Regions from separate parts of the Homo sapiens genome. Here region 1 is linked to region 2. Evidence: fine-mapped expression QTL. Tissue or cell type: whole blood. Region 2 holds a variant in brackets; the other region holds the start of a gene. All regions are shown on one strand. Distances are from middle to middle.

The links. PIP is the estimated chance that this variant, and not a neighbour inherited with it, causes the effect.
Region 1: NFKBIA starts here. The variant in region 2 is fine-mapped to the expression of NFKBIA in whole blood (INTERVAL, PIP above 0.99).

What each region holds. Positions count from the first base shown.
Region 1 is chr14:35,403,217-35,405,916 of GRCh38, reverse strand. NFKBIA (NFKB inhibitor alpha) reads left to right here and starts at 1,168. Exons shown (of 6, transcript NM_020529.3): 1 at 1,168-1,499; 2 at 2,119-2,227; 3 at 2,557-2,700. The coding sequence starts at 1,273. RefSeq lists enhancers at 707-1,106, 311-1,182, 2,287-2,336, 2,367-2,676 and silencers at 1,177-1,346, 1,497-2,086.
Region 2 is chr14:35,110,740-35,113,362 of GRCh38, reverse strand. The region is part of intron 2 of PPP2R3C (protein phosphatase 2 regulatory subunit B''gamma); the gene reads left to right. It overlaps LOC101927178 (a long non-coding RNA gene), which reads right to left. Exons shown (of 5, transcript NR_110415.1): 5 at 233-499. Among named protein-coding and RNA genes, the nearest start is that of PRORP-PSMA6, 9.8 kb to the left of the region's middle. RefSeq lists an enhancer at 33-814. The variant G/A (reference allele first, on the strand shown) is at 1,421.

The DNA.
Region 1 (2,700 bases), 290 kb before region 2:
ATAGTGAGCCGAAACCCCTTTCTACCCAGGTGGCGTGAATGGGTCCAACTGCTACTGTCCCCCAGGACAAGAGAGCAAGGAGGGGCGGGCAGGATGGGACTACCTTGAGCCTCCCGCAGGATGCCTGGCAACTACTTTCTTAGTGGTCCTTAAGGTCCAATCGCGGTTAAGGCACTAACTAAACTCATTCTTCAGCCTCCTTCTCTAAGTTCTCCTCGAATTTGGGTGCCCAGAAGTAGGCTCACGATCCTTTTTCTGCGGGAGCACAATGTAGGTCAGATAGCATAAACGAATAGCTACTTATGAACACAATAGCTACTCTGCTATTGCAAGGTATCCACAACCACCACTACAAACATTAACACCTTGCTTTACTTGGGAAACAAAAAAAATCATGGTCCTATTCAGCAGTTTCCCCATACAGGGAGCGTTTGCCCCTCCCCCAGTCAACAGGGCTGTTCATCCCTAGGAAGTGATTTGAGAGTTCTCCAAGGATTTAGGCTTTTCACTCCTCCAAAGCTTTCACAACTTCTACCTGGCGGGGGTGCGTGGGGGGGTGGGGGCGAAGCTAAAAGTTCCTTTGCTGCAAAGAGCCTGGTATAGGCAGAAACACCGGCGCGGCCTGCAGCCCCCTAACCACAGTGCGTCCTTCCCCTTAGAAGTCTGGGGAAAGCAAATCCCTACGCCCAGCCATCATTTCCACTCTTGCGTTTTCAAAAGATCAAAAAACGGAAAGGACCGGCAGGTTGGCAAACCCCAAAGAGGGACCGCCCATCAGGTCGGCGTCCTTGGGATCTCAGCAGCCGACGACCCCAATTCAAATCGATCGTGGGAAACCCCAGGGAAAGAAGGCTCACTTGCAGAGGGACAGGATTACAGGGTGCAGGCTGCAGGGAAGTACCGGGGGGAGGGGGCCTGGTCGGAAGGACTTTCCAGCCACTCGGCGCTCATCAAAAAGTTCCCTGTCCGTGACCCTAGTGGCTCATCGCAGGGAGTTTCTCCGATGAACCCCAGCTCAGGGTTTAGGCTTCTTTTTCCCCCTAGCAGAGGACGAAGCCAGTTCTCTTTTTCTGGTCTGACTGGCTTGGAAATTCCCCGAGCCTGACCCCGCCCCAGAGAAATCCCCAGCCAGCGTTTATAGGGCGCCGCGGCGGCGCTGCAGAGCCCACAGCAGTCCGTGCCGCCGTCCCGCCCGCCAGCGCCCCAGCGAGGAAGCAGCGCGCAGCCCGCGGCCCAGCGCACCCGCAGCAGCGCCCGCAGCTCGTCCGCGCCATGTTCCAGGCGGCCGAGCGCCCCCAGGAGTGGGCCATGGAGGGCCCCCGCGACGGGCTGAAGAAGGAGCGGCTACTGGACGACCGCCACGACAGCGGCCTGGACTCCATGAAAGACGAGGAGTACGAGCAGATGGTCAAGGAGCTGCAGGAGATCCGCCTCGAGCCGCAGGAGGTGCCGCGCGGCTCGGAGCCCTGGAAGCAGCAGCTCACCGAGGACGGGGACTCGTAAGTGGCGGAGGCCCGGGGCTGGGGGTCGTCGGGAGGGCGGGACGCGCGCGGCCTGGGGGTGGGAGGCGCCGGGCCTGGAGCCCGAGCCGGGGGACCAGCGATGCAGCCGGGCGGGCGCCGCGGCACCCCGGGGCTCCTGCACCGCCCCGAACGCTGCAGGGCTGCAGGGCCGCGCGGGGCACCGGCCCAACTCGGAGGGGCGGCGGCTGGGCCCTGGTGGATGGCAGCGTCGCCACACGCCCCCTCCCCCCAGACCCGTCCTCTAGGCCGGGGGCGGGGCGGCAGCGGGGACGCGAAGTCCCCGGTTGCATAAGGCGGGGCGGGAGTTTCTGGCCGCTGGCGGGCGCCGAGCAGCCGGGAGGGGAAGTACAGGGCGTTCCGAGCTGGCGGGAGGGCGGGGCGGTCTGGCCGGCGCCCGCCGGGGCCGCGGGGGGAGGGGGGCGGAAAGTCCCTGGGCGCCTGCCAGGAACACTCAGCTCATAATAACCTCGCGGAAAACACCGCGGCCTCGGCCTCCAGAAACCCCGGCCTTGCGCAATCCCCCGCAGCCCGCGCCTCCCTGGGCCCCACGCGGTGCACTCACCACCCCTGGGGTTTTTCCCTCTCTTCCCCACAGGTTCCTGCACTTGGCCATCATCCATGAAGAAAAGGCACTGACCATGGAAGTGATCCGCCAGGTGAAGGGAGACCTGGCCTTCCTCAACTTCCAGAACAACCTGCAGCAGGTGCGCCGCTTGCCTGGCCCGGGTTCTCTCTGACCCTGGGACGTAGCTGATGTAGCAGAGTCACCCCAGATCCTTTCTGAATTCAGGGCCACTGAGCACTATTTACCCTCACCTTTTACTTCACATCAGCCCACATCCTAGAGAGTGAAGGAAATTCCACTGATTTGGTGAGGTCTTTATGACCCACCTGGAGCCTCTGCTATTTGCCAGCCCTCCCCACCCCCCTGTCTAGGAGGAGCAGCACCCAACCAGGAGACACGGGTTGAGGGGAACTCGGGGTGTGGGTTTGGTCCATGGCTTACTTTCTCTGGTCTCTCTTGCATTCGTAGACTCCACTCCACTTGGCTGTGATCACCAACCAGCCAGAAATTGCTGAGGCACTTCTGGGAGCTGGCTGTGATCCTGAGCTCCGAGACTTTCGAGGAAATACCCCCCTACACCTTGCCTGTGAGCAGGGCTGCCTGGCCAGCGTG
Region 2 (2,623 bases):
GGTCTCCTGTCTGCAGCTATGGATTTGTAAAAAAGTCCTTTCCCTTCTTTCTTCTTCCTCTCCATGGTCCCACTGCTTCAGAGAAAACACCTATTATCTTGAGTCACCACTTCTCTCCTTGGCTGATTAGCTGGTTAACTAGCCACTAGAACACAATGTCAGTCACCCCCAACTCCAGCCCCATCCCCATCTCCTAATGTTTCTTCTGTTGACGAAGAGTTGAACTCTGTAAAATATTTGAAGAGATTTATTCTGAGCCAAATATGAGTGGCCATGGCCTGTGACACAGCCTTCAAGAGATCCTGAGAACATGTACCAAAGGTGGTTTGGGTGCAGCTTGGTTTCATACATTTTAGGGAGGCATGAGACATCAATCAAATACATTTGAGAAATACATTGGTTTGATCCAGAAAGGTGGGACAATTTGAAGTGGGGCTTCCAGGCTACAGGTAAATTCAAATGTTTTCTGGTTGACACTTGGCTGAGTTTGTCTAAAGACCTGGGATCAAACAGAAAGGAATGTCTGGGTTAAGATAAGAGGCTGTAGCGACCAAGGTTTTATCATGCAGATGAAGCTTTTAGCTAGCAGGCTTCAGAGAGAATAGGTTGCAAAATGTTTCTTATTAGACTTAAAGTCTGTGTTGATGTTAATGCCAGAGAGGTATAACGAGGCATGTTTGACCCCCACTTCCCATCATGCCCTGAAACAGTCTCTCAGGTTAAATTTTAAGGGCGCTGACTGAGGAGGAAGTCCATTCAGATGGTTGGGGGGCCTTAGAATTTTATTTTTGGTTTATACTCCTTTAACTCTGTTCCTTCTGATGGGAGGGATGGCATCTTAGTTCCTGGAAATGAAAGATGAAAACCATAACCCCAAGTTTTGACGTAAGGTTTACCGAGGTAATTTAATGGGGCTAAGATGTAGAAAAGGAAGAAGAACTCTTTAAAGTAAATTATTCTGGCTGGGTGTGGTGGCTCATGCCTGTAATCCTAGCACTTTGGGAGGCCAAGGTGGGAGGACTGCTTGAGTCCAGGACTTCAAGACCAACCTGGGCAACATAGCAAGACCCTGCCTCTATTATTAATTTAAAAAAGAAGAAATAAAGCAAATTGTTCTAAGTCAGGTTGGAATGAATCATTCTAAAGCTCTGCTCATGGAAATCACCCCAGTTGGCAAACCCTCTTGCCTGGGAGGCCAACATAATAGGCACTGCCTTGACTGTCTCCAAGAAGAAAGGTGATCCAATCTCAACAGGCATGCTTTCCTAAAACTGGACAAGAAGAATAAATGGTTTTTGCTGGACAGGAAGAATTACAGGTAAGAACCACCCAACAGGTTCTTCTTGCCTGCTACCCAGATAGAGCCAATTTATCAAGATGGGAATTGCAAGAGAGAAATAATTTCATATACATGGAGACA[G/A]CTAAATGGGAGACAGGAGTTTTATTATTACTCAAATCAGCCTTCTTGAAAAGTTGGAGGCTAGGGTTTTTCAAGGATAGTTTGGTAGGCAGGGGCTAGGGAATGGGTACTGCTGATTGGTTGGGGATGGAATCACAGGGATATAGAAAAACAGTCCTGGTCCTTGCGTGCTGAGTCTGCTTCTGGGTTGGGGCCACAGAGGAGTGGCTGGTCTGAGAGGGGCCATTGGGTAGTCAGAAGTGCAAAAGCCTGAAAAGACATCTCAAAAGGCCAGTCCTGTGTACTACAATAGTGATGTTATTTACAGGAGTAATTGAGGATGTTGCAAATTTTTGTGCCCTCTGGAATAATAACTGCTAATCATTTAACTGACCTGCATCTTAGCAGAATTCTGGTCCTTCGCATCCTCCTGACCTGGTGTCCTTTCATTAGTTTTACAAAGGCAGTTTAGTTTTGGGATGAGCTATTATCATTTAAATCATAAACTAAATTTCTCCCAAATTTATTAATATCTTGGCCCATGCCCAGGAATGACCAAGGGCAGATTGGAGGTTAAAAACAAGATGGAGTTGGTTAGGTCAGATCTCTTTCACTGTCATCATTTTGTCACTGTTATAATTTTGCAAAGGTGGTTTTGAAATTGTCAATCTCCAGTTAATCCTCATTTAATTCTTCTATATCATTCTTTTTTTTTTTTTTTTTTTTTTGGTAGATGGAGTCTCGCTCTGTTGCCAGGCTGGAGTGTAGTGGCGTGATCTCAGCTCACTGCAACCTCCGCCTCCTGGGTTTAAGCAATTCTCCTGCCTCAGCCTCCTGAGTAGCTGGGACTACAGGCACATGCCACCATGCCCAGCTAATTTTTGTATTTTTAGTAGAGACGGGGTTGCACAGTGTTGGCCAGGATGGTCGATCTCTTGACTTCATGATCCGCCTGCCTCGGCCACCCAAAGTGCTGGGATTACGGGTGTGAGCCACTGCCCCCAGCCAATTCTATATCATTCTAAGGAAGCCAGCATGCCCAGCCAATTCTGTGTCATTCTAAGGTGACAATAGAAACACAGTGCTTTAAGAAAATAAAATGAAACTTGGTCTAGACTAGCTTTTAGAATGGCTTTTTCAGGGCAGAGATCCAGCCTTTCTGATCACCGATTCTCTGTGGATCAGTTTTTGTTAAACAAATGTTAAGCACAATTAAGGTGAGAT